Linked DNA regions of Homo sapiens. The protein of the gene in region 2 interacts with the protein of the main gene of each other region in a pairwise test. Each region holds a gene or a part of one and is shown on either strand. Other genes may lie near its edges. The genes, in order: RHOV and BUB1B-PAK6.

Region 1 (15,042 bases), 660 kb from region 2:
ACAGAGTCATAGACATAGAAACCCAAACATCCTCATCAGTTCCACTCAGGATTATATGGAGACCCAGTCTCCAAGCCAAAGATGAAGAACTGTTTTTCTGTAGATAGTCAATGAGCCATGGTGGATAAAACAATCAGTTGTAGATGTAGTGTCATTTATAATAGAGAAAAAAAAGCTTAAAGGTAAATAACCTACATGCCCCCAGATGGGGATCTACTTAAAGGTATTCAGGTCAGAGTGGAACAGTAAGGAAACATACACATACAGTTACAGCCTCATGGTCACAGTTTATAACATGAAAAGACAGTTAAGTTTTTAAATTAAAGAAAATTGTCTACACAGCATAATCACAAAAAGTGTGTAAAGAAATATGCATAGGGCCAGGAGCGATGGCCTACACCTGTAATCCCAGCACTTTGGGAGGCCGAGACGGGTGGATCATCTGAGGTCAGGAGTTCGAGACCAGTCTGCCCAACATGGTGAATCCCCATCTCTACTAAAAATACAAAAATTAGCTGGACATGGTGCCGCATGCCTGTAGTCCCAGGTACTCAAGAGGCTGAGGCAGGAGAATCACGTGAACCAGGGAGGCAGAGGTTGCGGTGAGCTGAGATCGCGCCATTGCACACCAGCCTGGGTGACAGAGCAAGACTGTCTCAAAAAAAAAAAAAAAAGATGCTTAGAAGAAAAGATTGGAAGGAATTACACCCAAATATTATTATTGATTGTCTTTGGGAGTTAAGACTTTAGAATACCTTTTTTTTTTCTTTGAGGCAGTCTTGCTCTGTAGCCAGGCTGGAGTGCAGTGGCGTGACCTCGGCTCACTGCAACCTCCGCCTCCTGGGTTCAAGCGATTCTCCTGCCTCAGCCTCCCAAGTAGCTGGGATAACAGGCACACGCCACCATGCCCAGCTAATTTTTGTATTTTCAGTAAAGACGAGGTTTCACCATGTTGGCCAGGCTGGTCTCGATCTCCTGACCTCGTGATCTGCCTGCCTCGGCCTCCCAAAGTGCTGGGATTACAGGCATAAGCCACTGCACCCGGCCTAGAATACTTTTTAAGATTTTTTAATCTTCTAAATCTTTGGATTTTCTAATTTTTATAAGTATTTATTATGGAAAAAAAGACATTATTTTTAAAAAATCTAGCCAGGTGAGGTGGCTCACACCTGTAATCCCAGCAATTTGGGAGGCCAAAGCAGAAGGATCACCTGAGCTCAGGAATTAGAGACTAATCTGAACAACATAACTACACCCCATCCCTACAAAAAAAAAATTGTTGAATTAGGTGTGTACCTAATGGTAGTGCACATCTATAGTTCTAGCTACTTGGGAGACTGAGACAGAAGCATTGCTTGAGCCTAGGAGTTCAAGGCTGCAGTGAGCCATGATCACACCACTGCACTCTAGCCTGGATGACAGTGCAAGACCCTGCCTCAAAAAAATGGAAAACGGCTGGGTGCCATTGCTCACACCTGTAATCCCAGCACTTTGGGAAGGTGAAGTGGGTGGATCACTTGAGGTCAGGAGTTCGAGATCAGCCTGGCCAACGTGGTGAAACTCTGTCTCTACTAAAAATACAAAAATGAGCTGGGCCTGGTGGTGCACGCCTGTAATCCCAGCTACTTGGGAGGCTGAGGTAGGAGACTCACTTGAACCTGGGAGGCGGAGGTTGCAGTGAGCCGAGATCATGCCACTGTACTCCAGCCTGGGCGACAGAGTGAGACTCTGTCTCAAAAAAAAAAAAAAAAAATTAGCTGGATGTGGTGGTGGATGCCTGTAATCCAAGGTACTTGGGAGGCTGAGGCAGGAGAATTGCTTGAACCCAGGAGGCGGAGGCTGCAGTGAGCCAAGATTGTGCCACTGTACTCCAGCCTGGGTGACAGAGTGAGACTCCATCTCCAAAAAAAAAAGAGAGCTGGGTGCAGTGGCTCATGCCTGTAATCCCAGCACTTAGGGAGGCTGAGGTGGGCAGATCACGAGATCGGGAGATCAAGACCATCCTGGCTAACATGGTGAAACCCCGTCTCTACTAAAAATACAAAAAATTAGCCAGGCGTGGTGGTGGGCACCTGTAGTCCCAGCTACTCGGGAGGCTGAGGCAGGAGAATGGCGTGAACCCGGGAGGTGGAGCTTGCAGTGAGCCGAGATGGCGCCACTGCACTCCAGCCTGGGCCACAGAGCGAGACTCCGTCTCAAAAAAAAAAAAAAAAAAAAACAGAAAGAAAGAAAAAATTGAAAAAAATCAACTAAGGGTTACACAGACATTAAAAGCAATTTATATTGATAAGGACATATGTAAGAATGTATATGTAAGAAACATATAATTTTATCCAATTCATATAATAAATATTCCTTTAAATATAATTTAAAAGAGCAGAGAAAAGGGAAAAGAGGCCAAGGAAACAGACAGAGAGATAAAAACAAAAAAACTACCCCAGAAAAGTAGGTACCATATTCTAGAGAAAGAGACAGAACCAAAGAGAACCAGTGGATTCGGAAGCAGAAGCGAATCCCTCTTGTCCTGCACAGGCTTGGGGCCAGAGCCTTAGAGGTCCTTTCCAGCAAGCTGTTGACATTAGGCCTCAGTCTTCAAGCTCCAAATCTGGAGCTAAACTTAATCCTCCCAGCCTCTCCAGGGCTCACTGGCTGGCTTTTTATTCCTAAGCATTTCAGGGTCAGCAGCAAACATTGCCTGAGCCCCAGACCTTGTGGGAGCAAAAGGAACTTAAACGTGGCTCTCTCTCTCTCTTCATTTAGCTGGGAAGATGCAGGCTGAGTCAGTCGCAGAACGCCCAGTGTCCTCAGTGTGCCAAGGGAGCAGTGAAGACACTGATACAGGTAAGCATCTGTTCTGGAGGAGGGAGGTATTGAAAGCTGGTTATCATGAGGAGAAATGGGGCATCTGGGAGGTGACAGGGAGCTCTTTCCAAACTAGGGGATCTGGCACAAGCCAAGACTGGGAGTCAGGAAGTCGGAAATAGCTGGGGATCACCAGAGCGAGCTGGCCTGGTCCAGGGTGCTGTCAGATTTGAGAGGGCCTTGAATGCTGAAATGAGGAGCTGGAAGTTCATCATCAACAGTGAGAGCCAGTAACAGTCTTGAGCCTTGAGTTGGGGGATGCCAGAGTGAACACAGCAGCACGGGACAGATTGGAGTGGGGAGCTGCAGTGGCAGGGACCTTGGGGTGTGGGTGACAGAGGTCCTGACCAGACTTGGAGACCCAGCAAGAGAGGAGGCATGGTGACCGAGGTTTCAATTTGGGTGACATGGATATACTAGTACCACAAGAGAGAATTAGGGAAGAAGTTGGAGGTGGGGGCGGGTACAAGGATAACCCCCTTGTGGGGGATGATCCCCACCCCAAGGCACGTCCAAGGCCCCTCAGAACAAGTTTAAGAACCTCAAACCCAGTCTGAGTCCTGAGTCCTTCATTTTTCAAATGAAGACTGAGGCATAGAGAAGGGAAATTATTTGCCTAAGGTCATGGTTGGTGTCAGAGTCTGAACTTGAACCCAGGTTTCTGCCCCAGAGGGGAGTGTGTCAGGCTGGGTTGAGGTAACAACAGGCCATGCTGCTGGGGTGTGAGACCCTCAGCACCTCCACCTGAAGGGTAAAGGGAACAGAAGGAGCTCCAGTTGGCTGGAGCTCTGGGGACAGGCCCTGGTGGGGCAGGAAGTGGACAGTCTTGGCTAAAACTAAACTTGGGGATTATCTGAAGTTTCACTTGGCTGGGATTTCTGTCCCTCAGCCATGCTCTTTCACACACACAGACACAGACAGAGACAGACAGACAGACAGACATACACACACACACACACACAGACACACACACACAGCTGTAGCTTCCTGCAGAGGGAGATGGGCTCAGAGGTGGGCTGGGCCAGGGCATGAGTGCTCATCTGACCCAGCAGCTGCCTAGCAGGTGTGCCAGGTGTGCCTCAGAAATTCCTCTCCCAGCTGAGCCCAGTGGCTCACACCTGTAATCCCAGAACTTTGGGAGGCTGAGGCAGGCAGATCACAAGGTCAGGAGTTCGAGACCAGCCTGACCAACATGGTGAAACCCCATCTCTACTAAAAATACAAAAATGAGCCAGGCATGGTGGCGCACACCTGTAATCCCAGCTACTCAGGAGGCTGAAGGAGGAGACTCGCTTGAACCCAAGAGGCAGAGGTTGCACTGAGCCAAGATCACGCCACTGCACTCCAGCCTGGGTGAAAGAGCGAGACTCTACCTCAAAAGAAAAAGAAAGAAAGAAATTCCTCTCCCAGAGTAACACATACCCCTGTATCCAACTCTAGAGTTTGCAAAGTGCTCTTACAGTCACTGGGTGATACATATCATTTAAGCTATTACCTTTTCTGTCTGGTCCTCAGTCTCCTTATGGTAAAGTAAGTTTTGTTTTGTTTCATTTTCTCCCTGGGTGTCCTTCAAAGTCCCTTCAAGCTCCAACATGAGGGAATGTTCTCCAGATCCCTGCTCCTCTCCAAGTCCTCTCCCAATGAACTCGCTCTTGCACAGGATACTTGGGGATAAACCTCTATTTAAATTGTTCACAAGCAGCACCCTGACCTTCACTAGCTCCTTAGGTGCCAAGGCTGAAGACTGGGTCCAACCCAAGTCTAAGAACTTTGGCCAGTGATTGAGGTTTAGGCTGTATGGGTTCCCTTTATGTTCAGGCTGTGAATAGAGGTCGGAGGGGGGGATGGTCCCCTAACCTGAGCCCCAGGGCCCTGTGAACTGCCAGAAGGAACAGAGCAGAAAAGTTAGAAGGCTGGGGACTGACCTTGAGCTCCAGTGCTGAGCATGGTGCTCTAGAAAGGAGGGGTGGAGGGGAGGGGCTCCACCCACCAGGTGAGGTCATGGGAAACCAGCTCTGGCGCTGACACCTGGGGAAACCCGTTTCCAGGCCGCTTCCCACGCTAGCTCTCCTGGGAACCAGCTGAGCCCCAAGCGGGGAGCTCCACACCTACCCCCACAGTCCAGTTCCCATTACACTGCCCCCACCCCCAGTCCAGCCCCCACCTTTCAATCTAGCCTCAGTCCTTTGGTCCCCAATCTGTCTCTAGCCAGGCAGTTAGGCCTTGAGGAGGGTTCTGAGGGAGGAGTGGGCTCCAGGAAATGACAGAGACAACGCACGCCTTCACAGACTTAAGGTTTTATTTGCAGACTCTGCACTGCTCTAGCTTCTAGGCTGTGTGACCTTGAGGAAAGGGATGATCCCCAACCCGGTCCTCCTTCAGGTTCTAATTTGCAGCTCCTCCCCCTCCTTTTGCTGGGCCTTGACTCTCACTTCCTGCCCCACTCCTGGCTCAGCCAGTTTGGGCAGTGCCTAGGGAGCCCAGAGACCCAGTTCTTCCCAGGGGCCAGCCCCGCCCTCCCTGGCCTTGGGGATTGAGGGCAGCCCAGGTGTCAGCCTGCTCCTCATCCACCCCACTTCCCTCTCTCCTCCTCCTCGTCATCTTCTTTCCAGGCCTTATCCACCATCAGTCCCAGGCTCCAAGACCTCTTTTCCTGCTCGCTCTCTCAATCTCTCGCCCACTCCATCCCAAACTTCTCTCCAAATCGGGGTTGAGCCCCTTCCAGCCCTCCATAATGCCAAGCGTTCCCCAAGCTCTTTCTCACCCCTGTGCCAAGGAAGGGTCCTAATTCAGCCAGGCTGACCTGAGGGCCCAGGACAAGAAACTGGGTTCCCAAACTGCTCGGAGGTGACTGACCCTGTTAGGACCATCCCATGAAAATCAAAGTGCCAGGTTTTTTTCTGTGAGCTTTGACTGGAGAAATCCAAATCAGAGCCTTCCCTCCTAGGCTCACCCAGGCATATCAGAGTGGGCAGTTAGAGGCCCATGTCCCCCGAGTGTTCAGAAGGGAACTGAGTCCTATGAGGTGGCCAGGCCCTGCCAGTAGCTGCCGCAAAGGCCCGGGTGCCCCAGGTCTCAGAAGTCTTTGGCCTCCTGCCTACTACTTGCTATGCAGCCATAGCTGCTCAAACGAAGCAGAAGAACTTCTTCCAGCGGCAGCGGGAGAGGGTGCGCACACCTTTGGCATTCAGTTTCTTCTCCAGCCGGGCTTTGTGCTCAATGGCACTGAGAATAGCCGAGTCAAATACTTCCTTCAAGTTCTTCTGCGTCAAGGCTGAGCACTCAAGGTAGCAGCAGGCTCGGATCTTCTCGGCCAGACCCTGAGCCTGGGGTTGGGGCACGGGGCCCTCCCGGCCCCCCTGGTCCAGCTGAATTAGTACGTTGACATCGTCCCTCAGGTCGGCCTGGGTGCCCACCAGCAGCACAGGCGCCTGGGGGTTGTGCGTGCGGATCTCGGGCAGCCATTTCTCTGTGATGTTTTGAAAGGAGCTGGGCTGCACCACGCTGAAGCACGCCAGGAAGACATCGGTATCCGGGTAGCAAAGGGAACGAAGTCGGTCAAAATCCTCCTGGGGTGGGAAGGCCAGGTGGTAAGGATTAGCCCCCCGACACATGGAATCCATTTCTCACCCGGGGCTGGAAACCTGAGACTCCAAGAGCCCAAGGCTTTCTCCATTTGCTCCATATGGGGTCCTCCCAGCCTCCAGCCCATCTCCCCGCAGACCAGTAGAGGCCGCGCCCAGCTTCTCACCTGTCCCGCTGTGTCCCAGAGCTCAATGCGCACCGGAGCTCCATCCACCAGGACTTGCACTGCAGGGGCGGGGCGGGGAGAGCCTGAGTTAGGAAGAGCGTCCTGGGCCGCACCAGCGCCACCTCGGGGCCTGCTCCAGTCTCCTCCCCGGGGTCCTCTGCGCCCTCCCGCCGAGACGCCCGCCCCAGCTCCCCGGTGCACAGCCCCGCCGCAGCCACGCGGCCGCACGGGCGATTGAACGTACGTACCAGAGAAGGTGTCCAGCGCAGTGGGCCGGTAGCGCGCGGGGTACCCATTGCAGGTGTAGCTGACGATGAGGCTGCTCTTGCCCACGGCGCCGTCGCCCACCAGCACGCACTTGATGCCCAGCTCTGGGGGCGCGCTACGCCGCCGCGGGGGAGGGGTCGGGGCCCGGAGCGGGGGCGGCTCGGCCTCGCTCAGCTCCCGCGGCGGCATGGCCCGCTCCGGGGGCAGCAGAGGGGCCAGCCCGGGTCTCGGCTTCGCTGCGCTCGGTGAAGCAGGTCCCGCTGGCTGCCTCTGACTGAATGGGTCCAGGCTGGGCGAGTCGGCCCAGCGCTACCAGCGGGTTTGTGTAGGGCCCCGCCCATCTCATCTACATGTTTCAGGCGGCCCCGGACCCCACCCATCGGCGAAGATCTCCCGCGGCCAGGCACCCTGCGAGGCCAGGCGAGGAGGAGGAAAACCCCGGGAGGAGGAAAGGCAGGCAGAAAGCTGGAGCTCCAAGAGTCACGCAGGTACAAGGACAAAGAATCGTCAAATGAGAATACCAAGAAGAGATAGACATCCATGATTTATTGTTAGGAGGAAGAAGCAAGTTGCAGAACATATAATACAGTATGTTCAGGTTAAACAAGTGTGCAAATTAAACCTTGTTCAACTTACAAGAAACAACTCTATGCATATGTTTGCATGAGTATTAAAAAGTTGGGATAATTTTATTAATGAAAGAATTACTTTTTTAAATATTGAGGCTGAGAGCAGTGGCTCATGCCTGTAATTCCAGCGTTCTGGGAGGCTAAGCCAGGAGGATCACTTGACCCCAGGAGTTCAAGGTTACAGTGAGCTATAATAGTGCCATTGCACTTCAGCATGTGTGACAGATCCTAAAAACAAACAAACAAACAAAAAACCTGTTGACCCCTGAACAAAGCGGGAATTATGGGCGAGAAACCCTGTGCAGTCAGCCGAAAATCCCTATATAACTTTTGACTACCCCAAAATTTAACTATTAATAGCCTGCTGTTGCTGGGCTCCGTGGCTCACGCCTGTAATCCCAGCACTTTGGGAGGCCGAGGTGGGTGGATCACCTGAGGTCAGGAGTTCGAGACCAGCCTGGCCAACATGGTGAAACCCCGTCTCTATTAAAAATACAAAAAATTAGCCAGGTGTGGTGGCGGGTGCCAGTAATCCTAGCTACTCAGGAGGCTGAGGCAGGAGAATCACTTGGACCTGGCAGGTGGAGGTTGCAGTGAGCCAAGATTGGGCCACTCCACTCCAGCCTGGGTGACAGAGCAAGACTCTCTCTTAAAAAACAAAAACAAAAAACCCCCCAAAAAAAGTAGCCAAGCATGGTGGTGTGCATCTGTAATCCCAGCTACTCGGAGGCTGAGGTGGGAGGATGGCTTGAACCTGGGAGGTGGAGGTTGCAGTGAGCTGAGATCATGCCATTGCACTCCAGCCTGGGCAACAGAGCCAGACTTTGTCTCAAAAATAAATAAATAAATAAATAAAAAATAGGCTGGGCGCAGTGGCTCACACCTGTAATCCCAGCATTTTGGGAGGCTGAGGCGGGCAGATCACATCACGAGGTCGGGAGATCCAGACCATCCTGGCTAACACGGTGAAACCCCGTCTCTACTAAAAATACAGAAAATTAGCCGGGCATGGTGGTGGGCGCCTGTAGTCCCAGCTACTCGGGAGGCTGAGGCAGGAGAATGGCGTGAACCCAGGAGGCGGAGCTTGAGTGGGCCGAGATTGCGCCACTGTACTCCAATCTGGGAGACGCAGCAAGACGCCATCTCAAAAAAAAAATAAAAATAAAAAAATAAAAAAGGCCGGGCGAGGTGGCTCACACCTGTAATCCCAGCTAATTTTTGTATTTTTAGTGGAGACGAGGTTTCACCATGTTGGCCAGGCTGGTCTTGAACTCTTGACCTCAGGTGATCCATCTGCCTCGGCCTCCCAAAGTGCTAGGATTACAGGTATGAGCCACCACGCCCAGGAGGCTTATCATATTTTCAAACTTTTTTCTTCTGACCTGTATCAGAAAGTTAGAATCATCGTAAAGGTCTGCACCCTTGTGGTCTCCAGTTGGGTAGGCTGAGGAGAAGGAGGAAAAGGAGTTGGTCTTGCTGCGTCAGGGGTGGCAGAGGTGGAGAAGGTGGAAGGGGAGGCAGGAAAGGCAGGCACACTTGGTATAACTTTTATCTATTTTTAGAGATGTGGTCTTGATCTGTTGCACAGTCTGGAGTGCAATGACGCGAGCATAGCTCACTGCAGCGTCCAAACTCCTGGCCTCAAGCAATCCCGCCCCAGCCTTCCAAGTAGCTGGGATTACAGGCATGCACCCCCAGGCCAGGCTACATTTTTTTAATTTTTTTTTTTTGTAGAGACAGTCTTGCTTTTTTGCCCAGGCTGGTCTTCAACTCCTGGCTTCAAGTGATCCTCAGGCCTCAGCCTCCCAAAGTGCTGGGATTAAAGGCATGACCCACCACACACGGCCCTCAGTGTAACTTTTATTGAAAAAATTCTGCCTAAAATGGACCTGTACAGTTCACACCCATGTTGTTCAAGGCTCAGCTGTATACAGATCATGAGAGAGGCAGAGAAACACAAGTGTGAATACAGCAGGCAGGAATGTACTGTACTCCTTTTCAGAGGAGAGCTTTCTCTAGACTCAGCCTGAAGGCAAGCTGTGAACACTTTCACTCCCCTCAGCTAAAGGAACTCAGGGTGCTGAGAAGCTAGCTGGGGAGGATCTTCAAGGACAATTTCCATTTGAATATTTTATAAATCTCCAAATACCTAATATTATCTCATCATCATCAAAAGCACATAATAATTACCTATCTGCAGATGCTGTTCTGGGCCACCCACTGCCCTTGCCCTAGAAGGAGTTTGCAGACTGAGACAATATCTCCCAGGTAGCCCTGGGAAGGTCACCTGGAGAGCAAGTGAAGAGTAGCCTGATGCTAATTTTGTCTCTTTATTGCAACCACACCAAGTGACACCAGGCCCAGAATCCTTTCTCTGATCTCTGACCCTTTCATCTCAGCCTATGCAAAGATCACAGAAAACACCGTCACCTTCAGGGAGTCAGCCATTCACGAGTTTTGGGAAAGGAGAATGTTGGGAGGGGGAGGGGCAGTGAATATTAAAAGAGATAATTCTATTTCTCCAAGAGCTGGTAGTATAAAAGCCATAAATCCGTCCAGGTGCGGTGGCTCACACCTGTAATCCCAGCACTTTGGGAGGCTGAGGTGGGTGGATCACTTGAGGTCAGGAGTTCGAGACCAGCCTGGCCAACATGGTGAAACCCCGTCTCTACTAAAAATACAAAAATTAGCCGGGCGTGGTGGTGGCGCCTGTAATCCCAGCTACTTGGGAGGCTGAGGCACAAGAATTGCTTGAACCTGGGAGGCAGAGGTTGCAAATGAGCCGAGATCGCGCCACTGCACTCCAGCCTGGGTGATAGAGCGAGACTCAGTCTAAAAAAAAAAAGCCATAAATCCAAACCAAATCTTTACATCTCTTAGAAAAAGTGACAGGTTCCCTGATTTTTCTTTTCTTTTTCTTTTTTTTTTTTTTGCCAGGGTCTCGCTCTGTGGCCCAGATCAACAGATTCAACCTCAGCTCACTGCAACCTTCACCTCCCAGGTTCAAGCGATTCTCCTGCCTCAGCCTCCCAAGTAGCTGGGACTACAGGTGCATGACACCATGCCTGGCTAATTTTTATATTTTTGGTAGAGACAGGGTTTCACCATTTTGGCCTGGCTGGTCTTGAACTCCTGAGCTTAAGCAATCCACCTTCCTTGGCCTCCCAAAGTGCTGAGATTTCTTGTTTTCTCTTTTTGAGCCCAAAGGAGAGGACTACAGCTAGAAAGATGACTTAATCATTAAAATCTCGACTATGGGGATGGGGAAATCGTAGGAGCCCCTGTAACCACTTCTACATGCCAATGTCTTCATCCTACATGCCATACCTCTGAATGTCTGGGGATGCTAATAATCCCTAATTGTAGCCCCAAGTCTCAAAAACTTCTCAGACACATCCACATAAGTTTATTCATCTAGCAAGTGAAAGAGGCCTTACCTGTTGTCCTGCCTTTGTATTCCTCTAGAAAGCCCAAAAGCTGTTGTATTTGCTCTCCTGGAAAAGGAGTGGCATTTTTTTTTTTTTTTTTTTTTTGAGACGGAGTCTCGCTCTGTCACCCAGGCCGGACTGCGGACTGCAGTGACGCAATCTCGGCTCACTGCAAGCTCCGCTTCCCGGGTTCACGCCATTCTCCTGCCTCAGCCTCCCGAGTAGCTGGGACTACAGGCGCCCGCCACCGCGCCCGGCTAATTTTTTTTTTGTATTTTTAGTAGAGACGGGGATTCACCTTGTTAGCCAGGATGGTCTCGATCTCCTGACCTCATGATCCACCCGCCTCGGCCTCCCAAAGTGCTGGGATTACAGGCGTGAGCCACCGCGCCCGGCCAGGAGTGGCATTTTAAAAGACCTGGACATCAGGAGACCTGTCCCAGTGTTCCCAGTTCTTCAGCTCACTAGCTGTGTGATGCCTACCAAATCACTTCATCTGTCTCAGTCCTATAAAATGACAGGTGAAGCATGTTTATCTCTGAAAGCCTTTCTGGTGCTAGCAATCTGTGATTCAGGGATCCCAGGGAAGCTGCCCCAGCCCAGGTGTCTGGGACAGAATTACTACACACGCGCGCACACACACACACACACACACACACACACACACACACACACACGCTCTTCTTTGCAGTGCTCTTGTTTTTTTACCTGGATTTTAATAATAGTTTAATTATAGCTGTAAATTTGAGGGTAATCCTGTTTCATCCTTTCTGCAGGCAGGAGGGGTGTAAATACACAAATTGGGGGAGATGTCTGCTTGGGCACAGGTAAAAGCCCTGATGTGGCCTGAGACAGGTCATTATTTTCTGGCCGCTTAGGTGGGGACACTTTCCAACCTAGGTCCCTCTGTCTGAGCTGGTTTAGGGGCAGTTTTGTCAGCAAGAGGGGGAGGGAGGAAACAACTTAAGGTGCTGATGAGTCACCTGTTTCTCAGAGAAGGACTTGCTGGGGAAGTTTGCAATTCTGGCTGCTACTGCTGGGAAACTCCCCTCCTAAGGGTAGGCTGGGTCTTATTCCTGCTGCCTGCCAGATCTTCTGCCCCAACTTCCAGCTAGACACACATTTGCTAGGATTAAAACTTGGCTCTGACATTCTCCATGGAGAAATAGCAGATTATAGGACTGGGGCAGGAAATATACAAGTCTATACCAATATAAATAAATAATTAAATACATAAATAAGTGAGACATGCCGGGCCTGGTGGCTCATTCCTTCAATCTCAGCACTTTGAGAGGCCAAGGCAGGAGGATTGCTTGAACCCAGGATTTCAAGACCAGCCTGGACAACATGGCAAAACCCAGTCTCAAAAAAAAAAAAAAAAATTAATGGGGCATGGTGGCATGCACCTGTAAGTCCCAGCTACTCAGGAGGCTGAGGTGGGAGGATCACCTGAGCCTGTGAGGTTGAGGCTGCAGTGAGCCACTGCACTCCAGCCTGTGTGACAGAGTGAGATTCTGCACCCCCTATCCCCCCACCGCAAAAAAAGGCAAAAAAAAAATAGTTTACTTAAAAAAAACCAAAAACTAAAAAACTCAACCATAGCCCTGACATTGAATCACGGCAGTAATATCTTGCCTCCAAAATGTCCATCACAGCTGTATATGGCTTTAGACTTGTAAAAGTGCTGCAGTCTGCCCTGTCTCATAAGAACCAAGTGACATGGCTTAGGAGAGGGGTGTGTCTGAGAAGGTGTGGCTGTGTGTGTGTGTGTGCGTGCGTGTGTCTATTCCCATTTTATCAGTGAGTATAGGGGACCTGCCCCAAGATGAAAGAAACTAGTAAGTGGCAGTCTGTTCCAGAATGAACAAGCCAACCACAGGTCCACCCTCAGGCGTGGTCAAGTTTTTTTTTTTTTTAAGATAGAGTCTGGCTCTGTCGGCCAGGCCACAGTGCAGTGGCAAGATCTTGGCTCACTACAACCTCTGCCTCCTAGTTCAAGCGATTCTCCTGCCTCAGCCTCCCAAGTAGCTAGGACTACAGGAGTGGACCACCACGCCCAGCTACTTTTTGTATTTTTAGTAGAGATGAGGTTTCACCATGTTGATCAGGCTGGTCTCGAACTGCTGACCTCAGGTGATCCACCTGCCTCGGCCTCCCAAAGTGCTGGGATTACAGGCATGAGCCACTGTGCCCAGCCAGTGTTGTCAAGTTTTATTAGGTATTTTTGTTAATTCCATATCTTAAGTTTACTGAAAACACTGGAATGCCTATAGCAAAACCTGGACAAGAATAAACCAAAAGAAACCAACCCCCTACCCTACCACCACAATTATTCCGCTGGCAAATAAGGGATTAACAAAAGAACACCACGGCCAGGCACGGTGGCTCACGTCTGTAATCCCAGCACTTTGGGAGGCTGAGGCAGGCAGATCACCTGAAGTCAGGAGTTCAAGAGCAGCCTGGCCAACATGGTGAAACCCTGTCTCTACTAAAAACACAAAAATTAGCTGGGCATGGTTGCATGCACCTGTAATCCCAGCTACTCCGGCAGCTGATGTAGGGAGAATTGCTTGAACCTGGGAGGCGGAGGTTACAGTGAGCTGAGATCACGCCACTGCACTCCAGCCTAGGAGACAGAGCGAGACTCCATCTCAAAAAAATTAAAAACAAAAACGAAAGAACACCAGTGGTGGGGAAAAGTTATTCCAAGGGCTCCATCCAGAGAGAGGTTGTTTTTGAGTGAATGCACTCTCATTGTCTTTTTCTGTTTCTTCTGCATACTCCAGTCCAAGACCCCCAAAATCAGGCCTGCTGCTTAGGATGAGCTCAGAGACTGAGATGGGCAGGTCAGAAAGCTTTGAAATAAAAACAGAATTCAAGAAAAAGAATTTTATATTTAACACTTGCTTACCAACATACTGATAATAATTATATATTATATATAACTTAATATATAATTATATATTATAATATAGTTATATGATACAATAATAATAATACAATAACTTGACTACCCACTTTCTGAGCTTTCAGTGGAAATTGGGCCACCATAGGTTTTTCTCTTCCTTTTTCTTTATTTTATGCATTTTATTTATTTTCTTTGTGGAGACAGAGTCTTGCTGTGTCACCCAGGCTGGAGTACAGTTGTGCGATCAGGGCTCACTGTAGCCTCGACCTCCCAAGCTCAAGTGATCCTCCTGCTTCAGCTTCCTCAGTATGTGGCACCACAGGTGCATGCTACCACACCTGTCTAACTTTTTAATTTTTTTGTAGATACTGGGTCACCCTATGTTTCCCAGGTTGTTCTCAAACTCCTGGGCTCAAGCAATCCTCCTGCCTCAGCCTCCCAAAGTCCTGGGATTATAGGGGTGAGCCACGACACCCAGCAACACAGATTTTTCTCTATTTCCATGTGCTTGTGTCCTTGGAGGGAGTTTGTGGCAAATTTACCCAGCTGGGCTGAGTTTGCCCCATGGTGCTGCTGGTCAACCCTTCAAGTCCATTTCCTCAGTCCCCACACCCTCTAGACCACCCTTGGGCTCAGGCTGGCTCCTGGACTTCTGTCCTGTCTTCCCTGCTCCCTCGCACCCAGACTTGGCCTCCGCTTCTCCCTTCATTTCTCTCCACCTCGCCATCCAGCTGATCCCACCGCTACTGCCCCCTTCCAACCTCTCTTTCCGCTCAGATCTTGCACCCAAGCCCTAGCTTTTTAAATGCCTGCAAGAGTTGCCACCTAAAACCTTTACCTAAAAAACTCCCCTACTAACTTCCTTATTTTCTCTTATTTTTATTTTATTTTTATTTTTGAGAGAGTCTGGCTCTGTCACCCACGCTGGAGTGCAATGGTGCAATCTCAGCTCCCTGCAACCTCTGCCTCCTGAGTTCAATTGATTCTCCTGCCTCAGCCTCCTGAATAACTGGGATTACAGGTGTGCACCACCACTCCTGGTTAATTTTTGTATTTTTAGTAGAGAGGCGGTTTCACCATGTTGGCCAGGCTGGTCTCGACCTCCTGAGCTCAAGTGATCTGCCTGCCTCGGCCTCCCAAAGTGCTGGGATTACAGGCGTGAGCCACCACGCTGGCTCTATTTAATTAATTAATTTA
Region 2 (7,964 bases):
AACTGAACTTATTTTTAAAATACAATGTCTTACAGGTATCTTCTCAACCTGTCCCATGGGACTTTTATATCAACCTCAAGTTAAAGGAACGTTTAAATGAAGATTTTGATCATTTTTGCAGCTGTTATCAATATCAAGATGGCTGTATTGTTTGGCACCAATATATAAACTGCTTCACCCTTCAGGTCTGTAATACTAAAAACATAATTTAAAGTCCTGAAGTAGAGAGATTTGTGCTCCATTTAGCAAAGGAATTTAGTACAAAATTCCTGTCAATCTTCTAGAAATAGACCAATTCAAGTATAAGTTAGAAGCATTGATAATTTTCTCGTTATTTTGACCAAAGATCTCTTTGGTATTTTTTTAACTTTTTTTGGTCCGTTGTCAAGCATAAATAAAAGTAGAATTGTACAATGAACTCCCATGAACTAGTCATCTATGATAATCTTAGCTCATGGTCACTCTTGTTTTAGCTATACTACCCCCACTGGATAGTTTTTAAAACCCAGACACAATATGTCATTTTACTCTTCGGTTTGTTCTTAAGAAGGTTTGCTATGGATTTTGATGATAATATGAATTCTCAAAAATGGTTGGAATGAGGGTATTTTAAATCCATTTATTAAGTACCTATTTTGGGCCAGGCTCATGCTTGATGCCCTTCATCATTATGTCATTAAATCCTTACAAACAATCTTATGGGAGATGGCAGTGTTATTAAAACTGGGACATAGACTCAGTCTACAGAGGTGCCTACGTTCCAGTAGAGAACAAGGAAGACTACAAACCATCAGTTTTCAAGGTATTGAGTATAACTACGATCTGCCAAACTTGAGAAATAGTGAGTTTTCTGTCCTTCAATTTCCAGGATCTTCTCCAACACAGTGAATATATTACCCATGAAATAACAGTGTTGATTATTTATAACCTTTTGACAATAGTGGAGATGCTACACAAAGCAGAAATAGTCCATGGTGACTTGAGTCCAAGGTGTCTGATTCTCAGAAACAGGTTGGTCCTTTTCATTCTTATAATTCTGCCAGCTGTCTCTTAAAACATGGATAGTTGCCACTTTTTTTTTTCTTTTTTGAGGCGAGGGTCTCACTCTGTCACCTAGGTTGGAGTACAGTGGCATGATCTTGGCTCACTGCAGCCTCCATCTCCCAGGTTCAAACGATTCTCCCATCTTAACCTTGCTAGTAGCTGGGACCACAGGCGCGCACCACCACACCTGGCTAATTTTTTGTATTTTTTGGTAGAGATGAGGTTTCACCATGTTGCCCAGGCTGGTCTCAAACTCCTGGCCTCAAGTGATCTGCCCACCTCAGCCTCCCAAAGTGCTGGGATTATAGGCGTGAGCCACTGCACCCGGCCAAGTTGCCAATTTTTAAAGCCTTTTGATAAATGCCATATCGAGGAACATATTATGTTAAGAGAGTATTTACCTAAAAGTCAAAAATCATTAAGAATAGTTTAAAATAATTCAAAGAAATAAACACATTGAGGAAATAGATTAAATCAGATAAAAGAATTAATCACTGAGTATTGTGATGATATATGTCAAGATGAGATATAAAATATGAATATTTTGAGGAATATAAAGTGGATTGTTTAGTCATTCTTTGAGTGGGACCAGTGCCACTCTAGCGAGGATGCCAGCAAAATCAAGGCACTACTCAGTTTCATAGACCAAAGCTTAAGTCAGGCCTAACTGACCTGTTAGCCAAGAGAAGTGGGTAAAACCAGAGTTCAAATACAAACTATGCCAAGGAATGGGGTTTAGTGTTCAAATTAAACCCAGTGTGTCCATCAGGTTCAAGGGGTGAGCACAGAGCAGGAAATAATAAATGAATACTAAGGACTGAGAAAATATAGATCACGTTCAGGCATTAACTAGGCAAAAACAGTCCAACATTTTTGCTTTGTGAAAAGTACTAGAGGACTACTATATTCTTTTAGTGATCATTGGTGTTATAGTATTTGAGTAAAAGCAGCCTGGTTTAAAGATGCTGTGTCTGCCCAACCCTGTGTCTTGGGTGAGGTGTTAACTTTGTTTCTGAGGCCACTGGTATACACTAATAGCTGGACTTACTCTTTACATTTCTTCTGAATACTTAATCTATCAGAAGAGATTGAATTAGACTCTAAATTATAGTTAACGTGGAAATTAAAAGAACCCTCAATGTGTTCCTGTGATTGTAACCAAAAGAACCAGAGAATCCCACCTTCTCCCCTGAGATAGCAGAGTCAAAGGCTTTCCCAGACATAATGTAGCAGCATTTCTCATCCAGGGCACCATAGGTATTTTGGGTGAGACAATTCTTTGTGCAGGTGTGTTCCAAGCAATGCAGGATGTTTTATATTCCTATTCCCCCCCACCCACCCAATTAAGTGCAAGTAACAATCCCCTAAGCCGTTGTGACCACCAAAAATCCCCCCAAATTTCCAAGTATGAGAACCCCTGGTATATTTTCACTCTACTTAACATTAAAATGACAGTGCTGAAATTCCCAGGGCTATGGAAATTGGAAGCAGAGGTTTTTTCTAAGCCTTTTAGAATTGGCCATTTGTGGTCTAATGAAGTACGATAACCCTTCTCTCAGCCACTAGAGGCTCTAGGAAAGTCCATAGTATTAAAGAGGCATTGCTTTTTACTTTGTCACTGCTTATCAAATTTAATCAGAAATTTCACATAGATTCATAAGGAATTAAAAGCCAGAAAGGGGCCGAGCACAGTGGCTCATGCCTATAATCAATCCCAGCACTTTTGGAGGCTGAGGCGGGCAGATCACCTGAGGTTGGGAGTTCAAGACCAGCCTGACCAACATGGAGAAACCCCATCCTACTAAAAATACAAAATTAGCCAGGTATGGTGGTGCATGCCTGTAATCCCAGCTACTTGGGAGGCTGAGGAAGGAGAATTGCTTGAACTCAGGAGGCAGAGGTTGTGGTGAACTGAGATCGCACCATTGTACTCCAGTCTGGGCAACAAGAGCAAAATTCTGTCTCAAAAAAAAAGCCAGAGGCCGGGCGCAGTAGCTCACGCCTGTAATCCCAGCATTTTGGGAGGCCGAGGCGGGCGGATCACGAGGTCAGGAGATCAAGACCATCCTGGCTAACACAGTGAAACCCTGTCTCTACTAAAAATACAACAAGATAGCCAGCCGTGGTGGCAGGTGCCTGTAGTCCCAGCTACTCAGGAGGCTGAGGCAGGAGAATGGCGTGAACCCGGGAGGCAGAGCTTGCAGTGAGCCAAGATCATGCCACTGCACTCCAGCCTGGGTGACAGAGCGAGACTCCATCTCAAAACAAAACAACAACAAAAGCCAGAAAGGGCTGGATGCAGTGGTTCACATCTGCAATCCCAGCACTTTGGGAGGCAGAGGCAGGAGGATCTCTTGAGGCCAGGAGTTCAAGACCAGCCTGGTCAACATAGCAAGACCCTGTCTCTACAAAAATAAAATAAAAGCCAGAAAGAACCTTTTGAAATTGCTTAGTTTAGTTGCTTACTTTAGTTTCTGCATATTTTTTGTGAGGAAAATGAGATCCAAAAAAATGGAATGTCCTACCCAAAGTAACAGTGAGTGAGTAGCTGATTAGAGGGCTAGGACACCTTCATGCATGCTTCTTTTTATTAATCTATGAGACATTTTTTCCCTATGCCTCCAAAGTTATATAAATATTTTACAATTACACTGGGCATGGTGACTCACATCTGTAATCCCAGCACTTTGGGAGACCAAGGCAGAGGATCACTTGAGCCTAGGAGTTCAAGACCAGTCTGGGCAATATAATGAGACCTCATCTCTACAAAAAATTAAGAAATTAGCCAGGCATGGTGGCACACACCAGTAGTCCCAGCTACTCGGGAGGCTGAGATGGGAGGATCGCTTGAACCTAGGAGGCAGAGACTGCACTGAGCTGAGATCGCACCACTGTACTCCAGCCTCAGTGACAAGAGTGTAGACCTTGTCTAAGAAACCAAACAAAACACACACATGCACACACTTTACATATATATATAAAATACATATGTATATTTTATATATATCAGAATCCACGATCCCTATAACTATATATATACTATATATATATATATATATATATATTTTTTTTTTTTTTTAATTATAGTATAGTTTTATGGTGGCCAAAAAAGGTTGGCTCTTGTGCCAAGGAAAAATGAGAGCAATTATCAATTTTAAAGTAAAATACATAGATCATTCTGTGCCGTGGAGGTATGTAATTGGAGTAGTTAAAGACTGTATTTAGGAATATTGCACCAATATCAGGAGTTTGAGGGAATTAATTGAGAAAAACAGACAAAAGGAACACATGAAAACCCACTCTTTTCATTTATAAACAGTTCCTATGTCCCCTTGGAGAATAGCATTATTGCATAGGATAGATAAACCCAAGGAAAACAAAATTAATTGATAATTAATTAGTATTATAAAGATTTTTTTAGTAAATAACTGGAATTACAAGTAAGAGTAAGATAAAATATGGTGTTTTACAAGAAATTTTACAATACAGATAGGACTTTATAAAACAGACTTGCATTGTTTTCCATTAAACTCTGGAAGGAAGAATCTAAACAATACTTGGAAAGCCTATCTGGAATAGTAAACAAGAAAGGCTATGACACCTATAAAATTTTAATTTCCTCCATCATAATTCCTGTCAGTGTATAAATCATTGCAATTGTATGTGTTAATGTGTACAGTACAGGGAAGAAGCCTGTGCTCTGCTTCCATACTTACTTTATATAATATGGAAGCTTGATAAATGTTTAATGGTGGCCATGCACCGTGATTGAAATATACTTTGTGTCACCAAAGTGGTGACATTCCTTCCGCATTGGGTGGACACTGCCACTGCTCTGTCTTACAGGTGCATTTTCAAAATTAACCACTGGAGGGAGTTGTTGGCATAGCTAAGATGTACCCAAGGTACCTTTTTTTTTTAAAGACCAGCTATGCAGCTTCTTTCATGGCCTATTTTTATTATCTCCTTCTCTTAAATCTGGGCTCAGAATCCACGATCCCTATGATTGTAACAAGAACAATCAAGCTTTGAAGATAGTGGACTTTTCCTACAGTGTTGACCTTAGGGTGCAGCTGGATGTTTTTACCCTCAGCGGCTTTCGGACTGTACAGATCCTGGAAGGACAAAAGATCCTGGCTAACTGTTCTTCTCCCTACCAGGTAAGTGTAAAACAAGCCTGAGCAAATATGGAGAGGGTTTCTTAATCTCTTTATTATCTAGATAAGCTATAAAAGCTACTGTTTACTGATACCGACTCCTAGAATAGATGACCTAGTTTTCAAATATCACCAAGTCAAGTAAAATGTAACATTTTTGTGTTACAGCATTGAAGAATATACACATACATGTGCAAACACATGACTAACTCTGTAACCGAGTGCCAGGGCCACTCCTACTGCCTACCACCCATGTAATCTTTTATAAGTCATTTTCTGTGATCTTCTCTGTAAAATAGGGATAACAGTCTCTGCTATGTGTTTATCAGAATTGTTATGAGGAGTAAATGAAGTAATGTATATAAAAAGAACATTAGCACAAATGTAAAGTCTTTTGTATGGTGGCATTATATGCAGAAATTCCTTCTAACTCAGCTTTAGACATAAGACATTTGCTGATTGAATATGTAGCACAAACCTGAACTAATCATGTGGACCCCATTTAGATCACAGCTGGAGTTCATGCAAACTCAGTAGGTCTACAAATTTGAATGTGATAGTCCAAATATTTCATCTTTTGTTCTTAAGGATAATTCCTAGAATTGGCTCTATTGATCACTTCTTTGGAGAGCTTCTCCCTTTACTGTAAGGGTGAGGAACAGTCTACTAAAATGTATGTCATAAAATAAACTTAGTTAAGCACTGTAATACCTTTCAACTTCCTACCGAAATAAGCTGCCATGGTAGAGGCAGAGAATTATTTTAGCTGATGGTGCTTTTTGTGATTTCAGGTAGACCTGTTTGGTATAGCAGATTTAGCACATTTACTATTGTTCAAGGAACACCTACAGGTCTTCTGGGATGGGTCCTTCTGGAAACTTAGCCAAAATATTTCTGAGTAAGTATTGATGAATGTCAGGGTCTCTGCCTGTCCCAATAATTTTCTGTTTCTCTTGGGTGCTATCTCTGCTTTGGCAGCCTTAGTTTTTTAATCCAAATGCCATGGTTCCAGTAGTTTCAGCCAGTTTTCATTAGAGTATCAGCAGAGCAGCTAGTGCAGGAAAAAGGAACTGCTTACTAAAAATAAGATTCAAAACTATTCAGACTTCAGGACATCATTCTGAATCTAGCTGTATCTTCCAGACTACAGCTATAGTATGGAAGCTTCCCTGTTTAGATATGTGAAAAGAAGCATTTCATGAGAATAATTTTCTAACTAATTGGTGTTAGCCTTAAATTCCTTTTTCTTTATTTATTTATTTTTTGAGACGGAGTCTCGCTCTGTTGCCCAGGCTGGAGTGCAGTGGCATGATCTCGGCTCACTGCAACCTCTGCCTCCCAGGTTCAAGTGATTCTCCTGCTTCAGCCTCCTGAGTAGCTGGGATTACAGGCGTGCGCCACCATGCCTGGCTCATTTTTGTATTTTTAGTAGAGATGCGGTTTCACTACGTTGGCCAGGCTGATCTCGAACTCCTGACCTTGTGATCCGCCCGCCTCGGCCTCCCAAAGTGCTAGGATTACAGGTGTGAGCCACCGTGTCTGGCCTAAATTCCTTTTTAATAGCAATTATTACCAAAAGTTAATAAGCATCCTTTGAAAAGACTTACATTTCTAAACTATATGCTAATTTTAGGCTATTTTTTATTTAATAAGTGGATAGAACCAAACCAGATAACTGACTCTCCTGGAGAAGAAGTAAGTGGTCTCTTAATAAGCACTGCTTGGTCTCAGAACCTTAGTACTCCCTCAAGCCTGCTCATAAAACTTACTAAGTCAGCCGGGCATGGTGGCTCACACCTGTAATCACAGCACTTTGGGAGGCCGAGGCAGATTACCTGAGGTCAGGAGTTTGAGAGCAGCCTGGGCAACATGGCGAAACCTTGTCTCTACTCAAAATACAAGAAAATTAGCTGGGTGTGGTGGCACATGCCTGTAATCCTAGCTACTTGGGAAGCTGAGGCACGGGAATCACTTGAACCTGGGAGGCAGAGGTTGCAGTGAGCTGAGATCGCGCCACTGCACTCCACCCAGGGCAACAGAGTGAGACTCCGTCTCAAAAAAAACTAAGTATCTACGTTCCACTTTAGCTTATCTTAGCAAATAAGTTCCCAGCCTGTCACCTATTGTTATATTCTTTGGTTAAAAAAAAAAATGAGTGTTGAAGATTTAATGCCCCTTCTCTATTTTCATCTTTGAATAATTGAATTGTACTTTTCTCTTCATTTAATTCAGAACTTGGCCAGTGTTGTCTCTTACATGAACTTTTAAAAATAGGCTTGAAATACAATGTAAGACATATAGGATGGATATAGGCATGTCCACTTGGCTATGGTCCAGGCAGGTCTGGCTAACACAAGCAGAAACAAGTGGGGTCAGTTGGGGTTTCCTAACAGCCCTGCCTTATCTAATAAGGGAAGTTTCTCTGATCAAAAGAAAATAATAAGAAGCAAAGGTACAAACATATTAAGCAGTAGTTAGTTTAGTCAAGCTTACGATTATCAGAGAATTGTAAAGAAGATCCACTACTGGGGTAGGAGAAAGGAGCTGTAGCCTTTTTAATGACCTAGACTCTAGGAAAGTTAGAGGAAATAAAATTCCTTTTTCTTCTATTTGTAGAAGAAAAGTGCTATGTCTTAGTACACAGAGGAAATTTATAGATTTAGATGAGAGATCTTCTTTCCCTTTATGTGCATTGTATCTTGGCTTTTCCCACTATGGTAGCCCTTTTTTGTAGTTCTTCCCTGGGCTTTCAAAGGACTATTT

Evidence for each region.
Region 1: the proteins of BUB1B-PAK6 (region 2) and RHOV interact in binary tests that used the Homo sapiens proteins (3 or more experiments, as listed by UniProt).

The regions. Positions count from the first base shown.
Region 1 is NC_000015.10:40,867,071-40,882,112, forward strand, and holds RHOV (rho-related GTP-binding protein RhoV), read right to left. Parts: upstream 7,165-15,042; 5' UTR 7,070-7,164; coding exon 6,862-7,069; intron 6,854-6,861; exon of another isoform or gene 6,673-6,853; coding exon 6,614-6,672; intron 6,432-6,613; coding exon 5,988-6,431; 3' UTR 5,144-5,987; downstream 1-5,143. UniProt on the Homo sapiens protein: Plays a role in the control of the actin cytoskeleton via activation of the JNK pathway.
Region 2 is NC_000015.10:40,212,464-40,220,427, forward strand, and holds the start of BUB1B-PAK6 (serine/threonine-protein kinase PAK 6), read left to right. Parts: upstream 1-4,964; 5' UTR 4,965-5,032; coding exon of another isoform or gene 5,033-5,204; intron 5,205-5,992; coding exon of another isoform or gene 5,993-6,099; intron 6,100-7,964. Other genes in the region: BUB1B (mitotic checkpoint serine/threonine-protein kinase BUB1 beta), read left to right, coding at 36-185, 869-1,011, 5,033-5,204, 5,993-6,099. UniProt on the Homo sapiens protein: Serine/threonine protein kinase that plays a role in the regulation of gene transcription. The kinase activity is induced by various effectors including AR or MAP2K6/MAPKK6.